Homo sapiens: one gene and its partners. The protein of the gene in region 3 interacts with the protein of the main gene of each other region in a biochemical or structural test. Each region holds a gene or a part of one and is shown on either strand. Other genes may lie near its edges.

Region 1 (7,108 bases), on a different chromosome or scaffold from region 3:
CGATTCAGTGGTTCTTGACTTTGGTTAGGCATTCATAGCTTTAAGAAAAAACTGAGGCCCAGGCTGCACCCAAGACTGATTCGATTAGAATCTCAGGGCGTAGGACCTAGGAATCTGTAGTTGGGAAAACTCCCCAGTGTACAGCCAGCTTGAGAACAATTGTCCTTATCACTGATTCATTCCAGGTTTGCTCATCAGCCAAACACAAGCCAAACTCTGATAGTCAGCATCCAGCCTCTGGAAGATACAGAACATCTGACATTCATGCTTATCAAGAGCCCTCAAGCTCCTGAAGAACTTTCTGAGCACTTAAGCATCAGCTACAGCTGGGATCAGTTTGGCAAGACACATGCATTGCTATCTTTCTGCAGACACAAAACCCCAGCTCTTGCAAAGCCTCAAAGACCCCAGGAATACTGCACATGTTATGAGTGAACTGGACCATAAACTCGGCCAGCCTGTGGCCTCTGCTGCCCTTCTGCCTAGCTCCAGCCTCTTGGCCAGCACCTCCGTTTCATTTTCTCAGATGCACACTCACCAGTGCCACGGCCCCTCCCCTGGATCAGCCATTCCCCACAGGCCTCCCTTCCTCCGCCGTCACCACTGCCACTTCTGCCACAGGCTGCCCCCTCACCTTGGCCCCCTCCTGTTGCTGCTGCCACCAAGGCACCGGAGCCAGTAATCTGTCACAAGAGTGGGTGAAAACACCTATCTTTTCCACTTTGGATCCTAAAGCAGGGGCCCCAGGGCAGGCGCACTGCTGACCCACTCTGGCAGTTTTTAAGCAAAGTCCTCACCCCAGGTACTCCACAACCAGGCCTGGGGGACTCACTGCTCCACCCCATGACTATGCCCTGCTGCCTCTCGCTCCTTCTTGCACAAACAGTCTCTCACTGAATCCCTAGGACACAGGTGAAGCTCAAGGGAGGGGTTCCTAAATGCCCTGATACACTTGGAAAGTAGTAATGTAGCAGACCAGTATTCTGCAACTTTCCTCACTGCAAAGCTGGATATAAGCTGCAGAGCTGGGGAGGATGGGTTAGGTGGGAGCCGGGATCACCTTGGGAATATCACCCCACCCCCTCCAAGCTGGGGAGTAGGAATTTGCAGTGGTGGTGCTGGGTGTACTCTGGGGGCACCAGGGGTCTGGAAAGGGCCCAGAAGTTGGGTGAGAAATGCATAGGGGGGACCTAATTTGTTGGGGTTTTAAAATATATATTTTCTAAAGTTTGGGACTCCTATAACAATTTTTAAAACCTGTGTCTTAAAGCTACATACACAAAAGCAGCGGTCCTCTGGCTCTCTCCCCACGTCTCTAGGCCTGCTCTCTAATGTGAGCTCCTAGGTATTTAATTCATCATCACCTGAAATGTGCTTTTACCCCCTCCCTTAATTCACTGTATAGCCCCTAATGACTCCTTGCTGATAGCTGAGCATTACATACTCCCCGCCCCACCCCCAATATTGCTGGGGTCCCTCTACTTGATTCTCCATGACATCTGGGGACACTGTTGGCACTCCAAACCTGTTCTCCACCTTTCCTTCCCAGGCTTCTGCCTCTACCCAGGGTCAGTGGTAGCTTTAATTTTACCAAGATTATGGGATGGAAAGAAGTGCCCAGATTTCAGAGGAATTTACACCCTAGAAAGACAAGACTCAATAACTGGTTGGATGTGAGGAATAATCAAAAGGGGGGTGCCCTGGGTGGCTATGGGGTCTTGGCTTGTGCAACCGGGCAGAGAGTGGGGCGAGCCAGTGAGACGGGAGGAGAAGGTGCTGAGTTTGAGGTACCTATGGGCATCCATGCGGAGCTGTTGGAAGGTCACTGGCCATGCTGGTCTGGCAGGCAGGTGCGAGTGTTGGGTATCAGCTACCCCTGGGCAGTAACTGAAGTCAGGGGCGTGGCTGAGAGCACCTGGGAGAATACACAGACTGAAAAGAGGAAAGGGCCCAGCAGCAAACCTGCAGGAGCACCACAACCAAGAAAAAACAGAGCCTGCAGAGGAGAGGGAGGAGTGCCCAGAGCTGCATCCGAGCAGGCGATCTTTCCAGGAAAGACCGGGCCCAGCGCCGGTCAAGAATAATAACGACTAAACGCGACACTGCACCTAGAGGCACAGAGGCCACCCTGGTACTGGCGGGGAAGCGCAGGAGGTGGGGTGAAGAAGGGGCAAGGAGGGGGCTGAAGTGTAAACAAGGAGAGCAGAGGAAGGGGAGCCGACAGCTGGAGAGAGAAGTGGGTGGAGTTTTCTGAGATGAGAAAGACCTCATTCAGGGTGTTTAGTTCAGAAGGCAGTGGATACATTAGAAGATGCAAGAGAGATGAGGAGGAGGAGTGAGGCTCCCAGGGGGTCAAGGGCTGGGGCCAGGACACAGGGTGAGTCCTGGAGGCAGGTGGACATCCCTTCCACCCTAACGAGGGCAGGGAAGGGGTGCGATGGGGATCTGTAAATAGCAAGATGTCAACTGTCCCTATGCCATTGGAGAGCTCCTGTTTTCTCCCTGGAGCAGAAGGTGCCGCCATCAGCTGAGGGTGAGGCTGGGACAAGGGCCCAGTGAAGAAAGGCAGGCGGGGGCTGCCCTGCAGAGCAAAAGGACATGCTGGGCGGAGCACCAAGGAGCCCTTAGCAGTCACAGGCAACCACTCATAGTTTTCCCAGGCCTTTCTCCTGCAGATCTCGGTCTCCAGGTGGCAGCACAGAGGCGACAAGCTCCTGAGTCCTTCCAGGATTTTCTGCTGGGCAGGGAGCTGCAATTCTGATGAAAGATGGGATGAAATGGGGAGTGCGCGGGGCTGGAGGGAGGCGAAGGTAGGACTGAGAGCTCAAGGAACAGGAGGCTGCGGTCAGAGTCTGAGAGGACCGGCTGAGGGACCGACAGTGCTCGGTGATGGCAAGGTGCAGGGCACGGCCACGGGGCAGGCAGCTGTCTGGGGGAATGGGGTGACAACCCCTGAGAGGTTAAGGAGTGGCGGGCAGGTGGGTGGAAATAGAAGTCACTCAGGAGGAAGGCAGGACCTGAGCAGGGAGAAGAAATCTGGGAGGTGAATGCTCACGTCTGCCCTCAATGAGGGTGGGCAGGTGGGTGTCTGGGATGAGCTGGGGAGCATGGGGCCCACCCTGAGAGGGACAGAGGATCTTACCAGACGGCCAGGAAGGGGCTGGAACAGTCCAGGAAGCAGGGGGCCTTGACCCTACCTCCCACCTCTGATGCCCATGAGTGTGGGAGGAAGAGGGGACATGGTATCCCCAGAGGAGAACTGAGTTCCAGCATAGGGAAGAGAGAACAGCCTGCAGGGAGGAGCTGGATCCATCGGAGAACGCGATGGTCGTGGAATAAGGGTTCGCAAGGGTGATGGTTCAACAAGTGTTTATTGAGCAGCCACATCTGCCAGGTCTTGGGATAGCCAGTCCCTGTGCTCATGGGCTTAGATCCTGGCAGAGGCCTAGTGGAGAGGCTTGGGGTGGGGGTCGGGGCATGGAAGGCTGTGCTATTGGCCAGGGACTCAGAATACAGGAGAGTGCAAGGGTGACAGAAGTTTCTTTCTTGGGCAAAGAGGCCTGGAATGGTGGCTTGAATCTCAGCCATGCCTTAGCCTTCCCCTCTCAGCCAGAGAAGACCCAGGTCTCCCTGCCCAGAGGTCCATGCATAGCCATTCATTCGTTGATTCATTCCTTAACCAAGAATTAATGAGTGCTACTCTGTGCAGGGCCTGTAAGAGCATGGGCTGGAGGAGGCAGCTCAGGGGCCGGGCAGGGGTGTTGGCTGCAAGGTTACAAGAGAAGGGTAGCACTCTCAGAGGCCTGCTTGACGGGCGCCTGGGACTGGGCTGATGGGGGGCCTTTCTGGGGCACAGGGTGGTGGGAATGTAATTGGAGAGGCTTCCAGAGGCACTTGGACTTGAGAGGCCTCCATGGAGCCTCTGACAGAGTCCCCAGGGGGAACACCTGCTCCAAGAGTCTGGGCTCTGCTTTCCCCTGCCCCCACCACGGAAGACATGTCAAGCTGGGAAGCCATGGAGGAGAAGGGGAGGGCAAAAAAGTTGTTGAGCCACTGGGATAAATGGGAGGAGCCCCGGAGGGAGCGGCTGCGGGATCGCACAGCCCCTCGTATCCGGTGGGGTGGGCTGATGCCCCTTTGCAGCTGGGCAGGATGTTCCTGGGCATTGGCAGGATGGTTGAGGGGCCCTGTGATGGCAGGAGTGCTGGCTTGGACCACATGGGGAGACCAAGTCCGAATAGGGGCCCGATGCAATTGAGGGTGCAAGCGGAGGGCATGGCGAAGGCGGATGGCTCTCTGTGCTCTGTACAACAGGTAGCGGATCCCACGGTGGACGGCAGGGCGCTCCTGGTGATCAGGAGGCTCGCTGTGAGGCTCAGCATCGGGGGTGGCAGCCTGCTCAGCGGGCTGGTGGGGAGGCCAAGCTGGGGGGTGGTATGTGCCACAGGGCAGGCTGGAGGCTCCTTGTGCTCTCAGCAGAGACTGGACTGGCGAGGAGTGGGCTGGCGAGGAGTGGGCTGGCGAGGAGTGGGCTGGCGAGGACTGTGGCTCGGCGGTCTCCATGGGCTCCATGCACTTTCCAATACAGAACCTCAGACTGAGGGCTGGAAGAGACCTCAGGGGCCACCCAGTCCAACCTTTCACTCTATTCAGATCCCCTTTTCCCCTGGACAGGTGATAGTCCAGCCTCTAGTAATAAACCTCTAGGGACAGAAGGGTCACTACCCACGAGGCCACCTGTTTCACTGTGGAATGGATTTATATATCTTTCTACATGGATGGAGTCAAACCTCACTTGTTTGGCCCCTATATAGCTGCCCTGTGGCCTGACACCCCTTCACTGGCCCCCACTGGCTGTAATAAACCAAGGAATGGATTCTTGTCCAGCCCTCCTCACTGAGGACTTAGAGGACAGAAAATGCATAAGGAAGCTCCAGACAAAGGTCTTGGACATTCCAGAAAAGAGACAGGGCTCTGGACACATGCTATCAGCATTTCAGAAGAGCTCCTGGCCCTGGTGTAGTGGGAGGGCTGGGGTGGTCCAGGCATGCAGCTGTCATTTGGAGACTGTCCTCAGCACAGCTTGGGACTCAATGCCTCACTGGAAAATTCCCCAGGCGCAAGGCAAGTCTGAGAGTCACCTGCTGTGGCTGTGCCCCCTGGGACCTGAAATGGGGGGAGGCAGGAGTCCTGGGCTGAACTTCTGGGCCACTCACCGAGTTTTCGGCATCTGAGTCTTCCGAGCTGCTGATCACCACAACGCGTTCCTCTGAAACGGGGAAGGGGAGATGCATTATGAACTGCCTAGGATGCATGCTGGGAGGGGTGTGGGTGTGCACCTATGGGAATCCTTGCAGGCCAGTCGGCTGGGGGAAACGGATGCCCTGCAGGGGGACGGGAACAGCCACTGTGTGTGCCAATGTGACTCTGCTTTGCATTTGGATTTGAGTAATTCACAAATGGGTTTCCATAATTTCTTGCTGTGCCTTATCTATGAATATTCAATTAAGTTATCTGCCCAGAATTCAGAATTTGCCCCCTGTACAGGAGGCCTGACAACTGCTACCTGGTCTGGAACCTTCTGCAATCCTAAAGAAGCACACTGTCCCCATTCTCAGCTCCATGAGCTGGGATGTCTAGAGTTAAAAGACGCTTCATTTAGTTAATCAAAACCCATCGATTACCAATAGCATTTGTGGGTAAGGAATATCAGTCAGTGCTCAGTGTGTGACCAAGGCTAGGGCTCAGTCAGAATGAGGAACAAAGCTGTACTCTGGGTGAAGCAGATCCTTAGAACTCTCTTGTTCCAGATTCCTCTGGGTTGACCTCAACTCCTGCCCAACTGACTACCTGCCTGGCAGTGTTCATAGAAGATAACTCTGACAAATGAGATACTTAGGTAGGTGGCCTTTGCAGAAACACTTGGGGAAATGATGGGTGTAGACTGAGAGAGCAGAGTTAAGGTCATGGGGAGTCCAGTTTCCTGTTATGGTATGCCCAAGCCCTCTCTGGGAGTATGCTAGGCATCAGCCAACAAACTTCTTGTGGAGACCTGCCCTGTGCAAAGGCACAGTAGTGTTTGGGAGAAAGGACTCATAGAACTGTGCATTTTAGCCTGTCAGGCTCCCCACACCTCAATCATGGCAAAACACATGGTAAACTGTGTCCACTCTCACCCCCACGCACACTGTGAACTTTCCCTATCTTATTCAGTGGGAATAAGGGACTCCTGTTGGCTTTGGGCTTTCTGGATGGGGCCAAAATACAGAAGAGGGGCACCGCCCAGACCCTGGCGGGCAGCACCCAGGCCACTGCCCTACCCACCTCCCTACCTGCCTCCCCGGCGCCACTGGCCACGTGGTTGCTGTTGGGCAGGAAGACCTCACTTCCTATGACGGGGCTCCTGGGGCTAGGCGGTCCATCCAGGTGGGGTGGTGAGACTGCCTTGGAGGTGCTGGGCCTGGGCTGCTCCGGGGAGCTCCGAGCCAACCTTGCCTCCTTCCCCTCCTCAGACTCCATCTTGATGACCTTCCTGGGGCACTGGGTCTGGCTGCACTTCCTCTTCTGGGCTGTCGTTGTATTGGAGACATCCTGCATAGAGGGAGTCACAGAGCCAGGTCAGGTGCCTGCAGGGGTGAGTGGGCAGAGCCTGCCCTGACTGCCAGGGACTTGTGGCCACCCTTTTGCTCCTGCTGTCCCCTCTCCTCTGCTCTCAACCACGCAGATTACGTCTCTCTTCAGACAGGAAGCCTTCCCAAGCTGGTACTATCTGCTGTCCACCAGTCTCTGCTGGCCTCTGACAACCCTGAGTGTCTCAGCACCCCTGCTGGGCTGGGAGTGGGCCATGCTTATGGGAAGCTCCCTGACCATGCAGCCAAGAACAGGGGAGAGCACAGAGAAGGCGTTGAGCAAACACTTTCCCACAAAGAGCTGATCTGATGAAGGCCTGGATTCCCACCCCAGTGCCAGCTCACTTTCCTGGTGGAACTCAGGCCTTCAGGAGGGAAGGCTGGGGCTGGGGAGAACCTTACCTCTCCATAGGAAGGGCCTTTGATGGAGAAGGCGTACACTGGCACGGGGTGTGCCCCGGGCACTGACTGTACCACAG
Region 2 (7,108 bases), on a different chromosome or scaffold from region 3:
CAAGGGTGACCAGGTCCTTAATAGTATAGTGAACCATTCATTTATTCACTTTATGAATGTCTACCAGATGCCGGGCACTGCCACACCGCAAAACAAAGACACACAGTCCCTGCCCTTGAGAATCTCACAGTACAACAAGGTAGGCAGCACACTGACATTAAAAACAGGTAACTATGACTCAAGACTCACCAATGTAACAAGCCAAGCCTTCAACTGACACACAAAGAGAATGTGCAGACTTCCAGGTTTCTTTTCATTTCTGCTCTGGCCGTCAAAGTGACTTCTTACTTCTGTGATGCTCAAATTCTTAAGCAGCTCCAAGCAACAGGCATGCATAGTGACATTTCAAGAAAACACCTTTCCACTGTTCATCTCAAGTGACTATCACATTGGCAACCGAAGATTTGAGTTCCCTATCCTGTAACACCCCAAAATCCACCATGTGATCTTCACTGACAGTGTTCAAAGTGGAGTTTCACATCACAAACTAAAAACCCGTTTCATCCAAAATGATGTTTTCATTGGATTAATGACACAATTCATTTCGTACAGCACTAAACTACAAAATTTGTCCCATATACAAACATTTAATTTGTAAACTGCTGACTATCCAGTAAACTATGCATATCTGCTAGCCAAAAAGTAATCCCAGGAAGAGGGACCATCTGAACTCAGTGATTGGTACAAACCACCCATTGGAAGTTTTGTTGCTCTGTGTCTGGTGCCTACTGAGTAAGTTCTTTCCTAGTAAGGAATGGGAAACACTTTGGGATCACTGATACCTTTTCTCCCAAATGTCCCCCTCCTGCTGCCCTCTCTCTTGCTAACGGTACAGCCAATTACCCATTCCCTAAGCAGAAACTTCAGAATCACTCTTGTCTCCTCCCTCTCCCCTCCTCACCTCCAATGTGTCCTGTCAATTATACTGCCAAAGTGTGGCTTGGTTTGGGCCTTACTCATTATCCTCAGTAGCTACCTTGATGGAGACCTCCTCTACTCTCATCTGGCCAGTGTGGAGACCTTCTAACTAGTCTCCTTTATCAGTCTCTCTCCCCATCCATTCTTGGCATGGCCTCCAGACTTAGCTCTCTAAAACAAAGGATCAATTCTCTTTCCTGATAACAGACAGAAAAGACTATAAGCCCTGTGATGAAAATGCCATTTGTAAGACATATCAGCAGCAAGCACAGTAGATCCTCAGTAAATATTTGTTGAAATTAAAGTTTACAAGTTCATATGCATTTTCTATAAGATCTATGCCTATTAAATAGGAACCAATTAAAATCACTAACTGACTTGCCTCAAAGAAAACAGATTGTGTTTGGGGTTTGGGTGAGAAATTAACATGATTTTATTGGTTTTTCTAATTTTAAAAGTAATACATGATCATCTAAAAGTCAGAAAAAGTCTATAAAAGATAATTTAAAATACCATAGTCCCATCATCCCCAGATGGCTAACGCTTACTAAGGGCTTATTTTAATTTTGTTATCTAATTTAATCTTCACCAAAAACCCTGTGAGATAGATGCTATTATTATCTCCCTTCTATAGAAGTTTAAAGAGAATGAGTAATTTCTGAAAAATAAGTGAAGCTAAGAATTAACAAACAAAATGTTAGTATCTTTCCAGACTTTTCCTACTGTGTCTGTATACCTTTTAAAAATAGGATCAACCTATACAAGCTATGTTATAGCCTGCTTTTCCCACCCCACAGAGTAAGAAGTCATGAATCGCTTTTCAGGTCAATTAATACCATCATGTTTATTAAGGGCATATACAGCTAAACCTACTGATCCCCAACTACCTAGCATACTGCCGATAACCAAGTAGGCAAACAAATATTTCTTGAATAAATGAATGTCGTGATTTATATAACCAAACCCTTGGCTGGGAGGGGGGAGGATGCCAGTGGACTTAATTACCCAATGCATTACTCCTGAAGGACACAATGTCCCACAGTGAACCTACCATGCTTCTCAAAAGGAATGTCATCTTCTACAAAGGGTTCAAAATCTTCCCGCTGCTTTATCATGTAGTCCACTGTCTCCTGTCTGTGCTTGAGATGATTTCGTGAGTGTCCCTCCAATTGATCACCAAGAGCTCTGAACAAGCAATTGCTGTCAAAACAACAACACGAGTCAAGACCTTTCAAAAATGAACTTAGTTCGTCTAAAACAATGATGCTTCATGCCAGATCATCCATGGAAATATTTTGTGCACACAGAGGTAAAGACTCAACTCTAATAGTCCAGGATTCTTCCAAGACCACGGGGGACAGCATGAGGGCATATTCAACCATATTACCTTCTTGAGAGGCAGCAAACAAGGATTCTATTCCCCATGTACCAGCTGGCTGACTCAGGAGAGTCATCAAACTTCCCTGGGCCTCAGCTGCTTCAACAAGTGGAGCCGGTGATACACTAACCACCTTACTACAAGGTCCAGACCTTATAGGCCATTCCATGCCTAAGGGCTATGATTTACAGATCCTCTTCCAAAATCATGTCCTATCTACAGCCTCTTTTCTAAAACAAGTTCCACTACAGCTACCCAGCTAAGTAATCATTCATTTAACAAATAGTACCCAAAAAATAGCAATTTGTCAAGCTGCCAATACTAACAACTGAACAATACTCTGTTTGAGTCCTAAGAACATAGTGGAGAAAGTCATGAGAAGGAAAGCACTTGGACAACAAACAGTTGTACTATGGAAAGACACTTCCTCCTTGCCTCCTCACTTAGCACCCAGGGAGCAACAATGCCATTGTTATTCCTGCCAAATGAAAACTTTAAACACCACATTTTGTTTCTCTAAAATTAAAATACTGGTAATAAACTGTAAGAGTTATCTTTACTTTCAAACCCCTCAAAGGCTTCTAAATTCCGAACTATCACAAACACAGAGGCTTAGATACACAGAGACTCAAACAAGACAAACACAATCTGGTATCCTTAAAACTACAGAAATAAACAATTCTGAAGCCAAACAGTTGTCCAGTTTTACACCCAACTGTTTACTCTTCCAAATGAAAAACTATGATACTGTAATTCCAAAGTATAAACTCATCACTTTCAGAAAGATTTCATGTCTAAATGTGTAGGAAAAAAGGGGGTTTTGTTTTTCAACTCAGAAAAGTGAATTTTCAACAGAAAGCTATAGAAAGGCTGGAATCTCTTCTAATGTATAAGAATATATACTTTTTTTTTTTTTGCAGGGGAGGGGAGAATTAAGACAGCTTCTATAAATTAAAAACCAAGAAGCTTTCCAACAATCTAAGACAAGATTCTAGAAGGAGTGGAATATAGAGTTCTGTAGGCTAGACTGAGGTGTCTTGCTAAAATCTGACAATGGCAGTCTTTTTTCAACCATGGAGAAAAGTAAGTTAATCGATAAAACAATTTAAATGTCAAGCTTTTCCCTCAAACTTTTCTTAATCAGCATCTGCCACCACTAGCCTATTCTTGAATTTAGTTTAAGAGATGTGATTTATCACAAATTTATGTAGTTATTTTACATTTAATGTACCAAAATTCATGGTATTCTACAGTTACATGTTTGCTAGGAACTTTTAATAACATGAGCAAATGTTCTCCAAAAAAGTAGGTGTAGAACTGTATATGCCACATGAACTCAACCAAGTTCATCTGTACACTATACACATACACAGACACAGAAACACACACAAACGTATGCCAAGAAAACACACAGAAACAACCACTTAAATAGTTCTTACAATGTGCCAGGGACTGTCCTAAACACTTTATATGTATTAAACATGTTGTGTCTCACAACTCTGAGATAGGTCCTATTACCATCCCTCAGGGGAAACCTGCCCAAGGTCACAAAACTAGTAAGTGGTAGGCCCAGGATCCAAGTCCAAATAACGTGGCTCTCGCTCGAATGTCAACACCAAAATGATAGCCATAGTTACCCCTAGGCAGCAGAATTAAAAATAATATTTAAGAGTTTTAATTGTTACATTTTTTAATATGCTTTTCATTACTTACCAAACTTTCTTTGAGCTCACCCAAAACAAGCCAAAATAGACAAATCACTTCCTTTTCTGACAGGATTACAAGGTAATGAACAAACACTCCAGTGACCTGGGTTTCCTTAGGTGAGCCCAATAAGAGCACTCAAGAAACTCATGAGAACAAAGCACCGCTGCCCAAAGGGCCTCTAGGAGATCTGGGCCACTTCCTGAGTTCACACTCTCACCATTACCTATAGCAGGGCTTCTCAATCTCCACATTATTGACATTCCAGGATCATTTTTTTGTTGTGGGAGGCTGTCCTGTGCACTGTAGGAAGTTTAGGAGAATACTTGGCCTCTGCCATTAGCTGTCAGTAGCACATCACTACCTCCCTCCCCATCAGTTGTGACAACCAAAGATGTCTCTAGACATTGCCAAATGTCCCCTGGAGGGCAAAATCATCCCTGCTTGAGAACCACTGTGTTATAGGGATATATGGCAGGTCTCGCATTTGAGTTCACAAAAACAACCAATTACATAAAGAGCACGCAAATGTTTTGAGTGCGCAATAATTTACTATTAGACAATATTGCAACACACGCACCAAAAAACCTAACGTGCTCTCTAGACTGCAGTAATAATAGTAAATGTGCAGAAAAAGGAAAAGGTTTTATTATTTGGGGTCAGACCAGATAGGGTACTGGGTACCATTCTAGTTACTGTATTTTAAGAGAGACGTATTCAGATAAATGATGTGGCTTTAATACAATATGAAGAACTACTAGTGATGTTTGGCCTAAAGAAGGCTCAGGGGGACGTGATCAATACCTCCAACTGTCATGTGAAATTAAAATTATACCTGTATAATAAAACGAAAACCTGGAAGCCACAGAGACATAGATTTTGGCAAATAAAAGGTAATTTCACCTTAGCTCTACGGAGGTAGACTATATAGACTCAGGATTCTGCCAATTTCTATAACTAGCAATTCACAGCAATTGTCTAGATGTGTGTTGTTTAATAGTGGTTGCTAACCGCATGTGACTACTGAGCATCTGATGTGGCTAATCCACAGTGAGGTGTGCTATCAGTGTAAAATACTAGATTCTGAAGCGGTCATATAAGAAAATATGAGAGATCATCAGCCGGGTGCGGTGGCTCATGCCTGTAATCCCAGCACTTTGGGAAGCCAAGGCAGGCGGATCACCTGAGGTCAGCAGTTTGAAACCAGCCTGACCAACACGGAGATACCCCGTCTCTACTAAAAATACAAAATTAGCCAGGTATGGTGGCGCATGCCTGTAATCCCAGCTACACAGGAGGCCGAGGCAGGAGAATCGCTTGAACCTGGGAGGCAGAGGTTCCAGTGAGCCAAGATCGTGCCATTGCACTCCAGCCTGGGCAACAACAACAAACTCTAATGTCTCCAAAAAAAAAAAAAAAAGAAAAAGAAAAAGAAAATATGAGAGATCAATAATTTTTATATTGAATTGTATGTCAAAATAGTATTTTAGATACAATAGCTTAAATAAAATATACTAAAATTAGTTTCACCTGTTTCTTTTTAATGTAGTTACTAGAAAAATTTTAAATCACATACGTGGTTCACATTCTATTTCCCCTGGACAGCGCTGATCTAGATCACTGATTCTCAAAGTGTGTTCCCGGACTAGGAGCATCAGCATCCCCTGGGCAGTTGTTAGAAATGAAAATGCTGGGGCCCACCCAGGCCTACTCAATCAGGCATTCTGGGGTTGGGGCCCAGCAACGTAGCCCTTCCAGGTGTTTTCACTAGCAGTCCAGGTGGTTATGTTGCATACTGAAGTTTGAGAAACACTAGTTGAGCATCTAGACTCTAAATCAGTCACTCTCAATTATGGATGCATATAAGAATCATCTGTAAATTTTTTTTTAAAAAACATCAATAACCAGGCCCCACTCTAAGATTCTGATGTAGTTGATCTAGGGGAGAGCCCAGGCCCTGAATTGTTTCAAAAGTTCCTCCCCAGATATTCTAGTATGGCACCCAACTGAAAACCACTGAGTGAGGCACAAAAGATGGCACTGCTGTTCAGGTGACACAGGCAATAATTAGACAAGATGATGTGTGAATGCCCTTCTACTACTGTGATCCTGCAATATTAAAAACAAAACTAAAAAATAAACTACTTGTTAGTAATAAGATAAACAGCTAAAATTAGTGATTCTTCAATGTTTCAATTTTAGAACACTGCTAATGAGTAATGTAACTCAGAACTACATTTAGTAAGACCCAACTAGATAAGTTCAGAGGGATGTTAATATTGTACTGCCTAATAAATAGAGTTATACATTCTTTTCACACTATAGCCAATCATGTTTTTAAGGAAAACATCAAGGTTAAACTATTTCTTTCTTGCTTTGAAAAATGAATCCAATTTATGTGGGTCCACCTTCCAGACAACACGTGAAATATGAAGCTGGTCCAGGAAGCATTACAAAACCCTCTAAGTAGCTCCCTGATTAATCTACACTAAGCTGACTCAACCCATGTAAAGGCTGTATTACAGGATATTGGTTAATTCATCCCTAAACCCCCTCAGGTTCCAGAATGCTACAGGTACCATATTGCCAACAATGAACATGCTCATAGATACTGTATCAGGCTACTCCAGATTGTAATCAAATCTGAATGAAAACAGGGAACGCTAGAGATGTCAACTATTTTTTAATAGTCTTTAACTTCATTATATTTCACCTGAGTCCTTAATAAACATTAATAAAAGAATCCGTTGTCCAGGCGCGGTGGCTCACACCTGTAATTCCACCACTTTGGGAGGCCAAGGCGGATGGATCATGAGGTCAGGAGTTCGAGACCAGCCTGGCCAACATGGTGAAACCCCATCTCTACTAAAAATACAAACAAATTAGCTGGCTGTGGTAGCAGGTGCCTGTAATCCCAGCTACTCAGGAGGCTGAGGCAAGAGAATTGTTTGAACCCAGGAGGCAGAGATTGCAGTGAGCCAAGATTGTGCCACTGCACTCCAGCCTGGGTGGCAGAGTAAGACTCCGTCTGAGGGGGGTAGAAGAATCTGTTGACACCTGCCAACCCATCACATACACAGGAAACACCATCCCCTGCAGTGATAAAGT
Region 3 (7,108 bases):
TGGGGTTGCGAGACCCCTAGCACACAGTTGGCCTTCTCCCCTGTAAGATTCAATATGAATGTACACGTTTTACATCTGATTTCCGGAGGGCACGGACCCCTCAAAAATCCATTTGTGGACCTGTGAGGACACCACTGACCTTCAGCTCAGCCTCTGACCACAGCCGGGCGGGGGCCTGCAACAAGGCTGCTCTGTGTCGACAGCGCCACCTGGTGGCCACTATGAACCATCGGCCTGACTCCACTTTAAGAAAAACTATTCATTTACCGCCGGGTGTGGTGGCTAATGCCTGTAATCCCAGCACTTTGGGAGGCCAAGACCAGCAGATCACGAAGTCAGGAGTTCGAGACCAGCCTGACCAACATGGTGAAACCCCGTATCATCTAAAAATACAAAAATTAGCCGGGCCTGGTGGCATGCACCTGTAATCCCAGCTACTCAGGAGGCGGAGGTTGCAGGAGCTGAGATCATGCCATTGCACTCCAGCCTGGGCAACAGAGTGAGACTCTGTCTCAAAAAAAAAAAAAAAAAAAAAAAAAAAGAAAAACTATTCATTTACTTATGTTCTTTTGTAGAGATGGGGTCTTCTGTGTTGCCCAGGCTGGCCTCAAGCAAACCTCTCTCCTTAGCCTCCCAAAGTGTTGGGATTACAGGCGTGGGCCACTGCCCCTGGCACTGACTCCACTTTTTTAATTAAATTTTTTAATTCTTTTTTTTTTCTTCCTCTGAGACGAAGTCTTGCTCCATTGCACAGGCTGGAGTGCGGTGGCGCGATCTCGGCTCACTGCAACCTTCGCCTCCCGGGTTCAAGCAATTCTCCTGCCTCAGCCTCCTAAGCAGCTGGGATTATAGGCACACACCAGCACACCTCGCTAATTCTTGTATTTTTAGGGAAGATGGGGTTTCACCATGTTGATCAGGCTGGTCTTGAACTCCTGACCTTGTGACCCACCCACATCAGCCTCCCAAACTGCTGGGATTACAGGTGTGACCTACTGTGCCCGGCAACTTTTTAATTCATTTTATTTAAAAAAATATGTATATATAGGGTGGGCGCGGTGGTTCATGCCTGTAATCCCAGCACTTTGGGAGGCCGAGGCAGGCGGATCACCTGAGGTCAAGAGTCCAAGACCAGCCTGGCCAACATGGTGAAACCTCATCTCTACTAAAAATACAAAAAAAAATTAGCTGGGTGTGGTGACACACGCCTGTAGTCCCAGCTACTTGGGGAGGCTGAGGCAGGAGAATCGCTCGAACCCAGGAGGCACAGGTTGCAGTGAGTCAAGATCGTGCCACTGCACTCCAGCCTGGGTGACAGAGGGAAGACTCCCTCTCAAAAGAAAAAAAAAACAACTATATATATATATATCTATGTAGATATAGATATAAAAGTATATATGTATTTATAGATACATATAAATCTATATCTAATCTATATATATCTATGTATAGCTACAGCTATATCTATCGATATATCTATATATAGATATATAGAGAGAGAGAAGGACGGGATCTCACTCTTTCACCCAGGCTGGAGTGCAATGGTGTGATCTTGACTCACTGCAACCTCCACCTCCTGGGCTCAAGTGATCCTCCCTACTCAGCCTCCCGAGTAGCTGGGACTATGGGCGCCTGCCACCACGCCCTGCTGATTTTTATATTTTTAGGAGAGATGGGGTCTCACTATGTTGCCCAGACTGGTCTTGAACTCCTGGGCTCAAGTGATCCTCCCGTGTTAACCTCCCGAAGTGCTGGAACTATAGCCATGAGCCACTGCACCCAGCCTAGATTCAATTTTTTGGATACCTCATTTACCCTGATGTGATTATTAGGCATTGGATGCCAGTATAAAACATCTCATAAAACCCATAAATATATATACCTACTATGTACCCACAAAAATTACAAATTACAAATTAAAAAAAATAAAAAATACATTCATTAAATTTTTTTTCAAGAGACAGGGTCTCGGTCTGTGGCCCAGGCTGGAGTGCAGTGGCGTCATCACAGCTTGCTGCAGCCTGAAAGTCTCTAACCCCTGGGCTTATACATTCTTTGCTCCTCAGCCTCCGAAAATGCTGGGATTGGCTGGGTGCGGTGGCTCACGCCTGTAATCCCAGCACTTTGGGACGCCGAGGCAGGAAGATTGCGTGAGCCCAGAGTTCAAGACCGGTCTGAGCAACAAAGCAATTTAAAATTTAAAGAGCAACAAAAAATTTAAAAATTAACCAGGTGTGCTGGTGCATGTCTGTGCAAGACTCCGTCTCATTAAAACAAAAAACTAGGAATGTGAACCATCCAACGTCACACTGAATATGTATCTGTGGACGACCCCCTCTGGGCTGAGCGTGGTACCGGGTGAACGATGGTATCCTCTCCATCAGTCTTGACTGTTTGTCCTGCAAAGCCCCTGGCCGTGCCCTGCTCGCCCGCACACCTAGGTTCAAGCAGGTGGGACCAGGCGCAACTCAGGGTCCTGAGTTCACGGCGGCGGGAGAGGCGAGGTCCAGGCAGGGCGTGGCCTCAGGGGTCCTACCTGTGTACATGATGCCGTTGATCTCCACCGACATGCTGATGCTGTTGCTGCCGTTGGTGCCCGTCAGGTTCACAGCAGAGTCCTGGCGGCTTTCGGAGGCTGTGGGAAGAAGAACAAATTAGTTTCTTTTTTTCTTTTTTTTTTTGAGACAGAGTCTTGCTCTGTTGCCCAGGCTGGAGTGCAGTGGCGCGATCTCAGCTCACTGCAAGCTCTGCCTCCTGGGTTCACGCCATTCTCCTGCCTCAGCCTCCCAGTAGCTGGGACTACAGGCGCCCGCCACCACGCCTGGCTAATTTTTTGTATTTTTAGTAGAGATGGGGTTTCACCATGTTGGCCAGGATGGTCTCGATCTCTTGACCTCGTGATCCACCCGCCTCGGCCTCCCAAAGTGCTGGGATTATAGGCATGAGCCACTGTGCCCAGCCGAACAAATGAGTTTCTTTCTTTTTTTTTTTTTTTGAGACGGAGTCTCACTCTGTCACCCAGGCTGGAGTGCAGTGGTGCGATCTCGGCTCACTGCAACCTCCACCTCCAGGGTTCAAGCAATTCTCCTGCCTCAGCCTCCTGAGTAGCTGGGACTATGGGTACACACCAGCACACCCGGCTAATTTTTGTATTTTTAGTAGAGACGGGGTTTCACCATGTTGGCCAGGCTGGTCTTGAAGTCCTGGCCTCAGGTGATCTGCCCGCCTCGGCCTCCCAAAGTGCTGGGATTACAGGCGTGGGCCACCGCGCCCGACCAAAACTGCCATTTCTGATCATAAAGACACCTGTGACATGTTCTGTTTTCTGTCTGTCTCGCCAACTAGATTTTAGCTTTACAAGGTGTAGACGGTGTCTGTCACATTCATGCTGTCACCAGTGCACACAGTAGGTGCTCAATATTTATTTGTTGAATAAGTGTATTTGTCCATACTCCACTTTGTTTTTTTTTACCTTGTTTTTGAGACCAGGTCTTGCTCTGTCACCCAGGCTGGAATGCAGTGGTGCAATCATGGCTCACTGCAGCCTCGACTTCCTGGGCTCAAGTGATCCTCCCATCTCAGCCTCCCGAGTAGCTGGGGCTACAGGAGCGTGTCACCACGCCCAGCTAACTTTTGTAGAGATGGCATCTCACTGTGTTGCTCAGGCTGATCTCAAATTCCTGGGCTCAAGCAATCCTCCCATTTCAGCCTCCCAAAGTGCTGGGATTATAGGCATGAGCCACGGTGCCCAGCCAGTTTACTTTATTATTTTTTATTTTTTGAGATGGAGTTTTGCTATTGTTGCCCAGGCTGGAGTGCAGTGGCGTTATCTCGGGTCACTGCAACCTCCATCTCCCAGTTCATGTGATTCTCCTGCCTCAGCCTCCCAAGTAGCTGGGACTACAGGGGTGCGCTGCCACGCCCGGCTAATTTGTTGTATTTTTAGTAGAGATGGAGTTTCACCATGTTGCCCAGGCTGATCTCGAACTCCTGACCTCAAGTGATCCACCCACCTCGGTCTCCCAAAGTGCTGGGATTACAGATGTCAGCCACTGCACCCGGCTTTTTTTTTCTTATTGATTTGTTGGCACTCTTTACATATGTAGGCTCCAAGGCCCTCACTGTGTGACACACGCAGGAAGCACAGCGGGTCTGGGCACGAGGGCAGTACCTTGGCTGTTGATCCGAATGCTCATGGGCAGCTGGGCCGCCATGGCCAGGAAGTTCTGCTGGAGTGCACGTTGCATCAGCCGTTGCTGCTCATCGGCCACCAGGGCCATCTTCTTCTCCGGAGGCTCTGCAGACTCCAGCTTCTCCCGCAGCTGTTCCAGGGCAGCTGCCTGTGCGGCCACAGCTGCTTGGGCGGCTGCTGCTTGCACAGCTGCTGCCTGGGCTGCCACCACAGGGTGGCCCGCCAGGGACACAGGCAGGCGGCCAGGGACTGTGATGGGGATGGCTGAGTCCTCCTCTAGGTAGGAAAAAAGGGGAATTGGTGGCCAGGAGGGGCTGGGCCCTGCCTTCCACTCAAGGCAGGAACATGCACCTTCTTTTTTCTTTTCTTTTCTTTTTTTTTTTTTTTTTGAGACGGAGTTTCACTCTTGTTGCCCAGGCTGGAGTGCAATGGTGCGATCTCAGCTCACCGCAACCTCTGCCTCCCGGGTTCAAGTGATTCTCCTGCCTTAGCCTCCCTAGTAGCTGGGAAACAGGCACCCGCCACCACGCCTGGCTAATTTTGTATTTTTAGTAGAGACGGGGTTTCTTCATGTTGGCCAGGCTGGTCTTGAACTCCTGACCTCAGGTGATCCGCCCGCCTCGGCCTCCCAAAGTGCTGGGATTACAGGCGTGAGCCACCGCGCCCAGCCTTTTTTTTTTTTGCTTTGAGACAGAGTCTCGCTCTGTTGCTTAGGCTGGAGGGCAGTGGCGCGATCCCAGCTCACTGCAACCTCTGCCTCTCAGGCTCAGGTGATTCTTCTGCCTCAGTCTCCTGAGTAGCTGGGATTACAGGCGCCCACCACCACACTAAGCTAATTTTTTTTTTTTTTTTTTTTGACACGGAGTCTCACTCTGTCGCTGAGGCTGGAATGCAGTGACGTGATCTTGGCTCACCGCAACCTCTGCCACCTGGGTTCAAGCGATTCTCCTGCCTCAGCCTCCCAAGTAGCTGGGACTACAGGTGTGTGCCACCACACCCGGCTAATTTTTGTATTTTTAGTAGAGACAGGGTTTCACCATATTGATTAGGCTGGTCTCAAACTTCTGACCTCAAGCGATCCGCCTGCCTCAGCCTCCCAAAGTGCTGGGACTACAGGCGTGAGCCACTGTGCCTGGCCTAAAAAAATTTTTTTTAGACTGGGTCTCACTACTGTTGCTCAGGCTGTAGTGCAGTGGTGTAATCTCAGTTCACCACAGCCTCGACCTCCTGGGCTCAACCCATCTGACCACCTCAGCTTCCTGGGTAGCTGGGACCACAGGTGCACGTTGCCACGCCCAGCTAATTTTTTTTTTTTTTTTTGAGATGGGGTCTCACTATGTTGCCCAGATGAGAAATGGTAACTCAGACAGGCAAACTGAGGTGACACTGCTGTGTGTGCTGTTGGTACCTCTGTGTTATGGAGGATTCAGAGGCTCAGTGGGAGGGAAAACTGATCAACTGATGATGCCTGCCTCAGTGTAGACTGGAAAAACAGTGATCAATTAGTAATGTCTGCCTTGGCCACAGGACTGGAAACACAGATTGATTAGCAATGTCTGCCTGCCACCTGTGTGGAATTAGAAAATGGTGATGGATTGGTAATGTCTGCCATAGGCAGAGGACTGGTAGATTGGAAGCCCTTTTCCATGCCAACTATAGGGTTTTTCATCCTGGTTACCCAGAGAGGGGAAGAGGTATCCCCCAAGGTCAGACAGCCAGGCTGAAGCTCAGTTGGGAACACGCCCCAGGCCCCATACAGGCCCTTACCTTTCTTGATCTTAGGGGCGGGGGTGATGGAGCTGCCATTGGTGCTTGCGGCCAGGCCCAGGGAGGACACGGGTAGCTTGGGTGAGGAGAGCATGCCGTGTGCCCCGCCTGGCGAGTAGGCAAAGAGGGAGCCACCAAAGCTCTGGCGCCGGCCCTCCCGTCGGTTGCTGTCTATGGCTGCCTGGAGCTCATTGGGGTTACTGAGGCCCCGCTTCTCACACTCGTAGGGGTACAGGTACTTCATGTATCTGTGGGTGGGACGAGGGAAGAGGATGGCACCCGGGTCACCCCTACGGCTCTCTTTGGCCTTCAGTACAAAGTAAACCCCACTGTGGCACCACCATCCCTGGTTCTTCCCTTGGACTTGCTCAGCAGCCCCCAGAGCTGCTGGGCCTTTGCCCATTCCCTCCATCTCAATGCTGTTCCTCGCAATGGCCCCTGATTGCACAACCCCAGAGACTGTGTGGTCCTCGCACCCCTACTTGACGCTCTCGGGCCCTGGACGCACGGTGTGGCCCTGTGCCCTTTGCGGCTGCCCACTGCCCCCTCCTCTGCAGCTGCCCACCACCCCCTCCCTCTTCTGCAGGCCCCTTGCACTGGCTGCTCAGAGTGCCCTGGCCCGACCTCGGCACAACCGTCCGCCACTCACTGGGTCCGCAGGGTGAAGGCTGCACTGGTGATGGACGTGGGCAGGTTGAGGCCCTTGGTGATCTCACGCCACAGCTTCTTGTTGATGACCTCCACGAGGCCGCCCTTCTCCGTCACCAGCACGTACAGCATGAACAGGTCAAGGACCTGTTTGGCCATGATGGGGATGCGGTTCACAGGTGTCCCTGGGGGAAGGGGCGAGAGGGAGGTTGGGGGCCACCTGGGCACTGCAGGGAGCCGAGTGTCCTGGCCTCCGCCCTCTCCATGCCAGGAGCACTCCCCCGCCCAGGCTGTGACAACCACAGATGTCTCCAGACATTGCCCAGGGCCCTCTGTGGGTGCAGGATCATCCAGGCTGGGAACCTCTGCTCGAGAGGGTGCAGAGGGGGCAGCTCTGCCTCGGTTTATCCACCAGTAACCTGGGCTTAGGGACAGCGCAGCCCTCGGGAGGAGGGTTACTGAGAGGAGGGACGTGCGGGAGACGCCCGGATCTTTGTTATT

Evidence for each region.
Region 1: of the proteins of ARID3A (region 3) and PML, one has a biochemical effect on the other in vitro, tested with the Homo sapiens proteins (one study listed by BioGRID).
Region 2: the proteins of ARID3A (region 3) and OTUD3 form a complex in vitro, tested with the Homo sapiens proteins (one study listed by BioGRID).

What each region holds. Positions count from the first base shown.
Region 1 is NC_000015.10:74,032,639-74,039,746, reverse strand, and holds part of PML (protein PML), read right to left. Parts: coding exon 7,032-7,108; intron 6,592-7,031; coding exon 6,333-6,591; coding exon of another isoform or gene 6,325-6,332; intron 5,270-6,324; coding exon 5,217-5,269; coding exon of another isoform or gene 5,091-5,216; exon of another isoform or gene 4,576-5,090; coding exon of another isoform or gene 3,796-4,575; exon of another isoform or gene 3,741-3,795; coding exon of another isoform or gene 3,687-3,740; exon of another isoform or gene 3,353-3,686; intron 1-3,352.
Region 2 is NC_000001.11:19,885,395-19,892,502, reverse strand, and holds part of OTUD3 (OTU domain-containing protein 3), read right to left. Parts: exon of another isoform or gene 2,344-7,108; coding exon of another isoform or gene 2,306-2,343; intron 2,300-2,305; exon of another isoform or gene 2,119-2,299; coding exon 1,970-2,118; intron 1-1,969.
Region 3 is NC_000019.10:963,932-971,039, reverse strand, and holds part of ARID3A (AT-rich interactive domain-containing protein 3A), read right to left. Parts: intron 6,793-7,108; coding exon 6,609-6,792; intron 6,208-6,608; coding exon 5,960-6,207; intron 4,469-5,959; coding exon 4,172-4,468; intron 2,636-4,171; coding exon 2,537-2,635; intron 1-2,536. UniProt on the Homo sapiens protein: Transcription factor which may be involved in the control of cell cycle progression by the RB1/E2F1 pathway and in B-cell differentiation.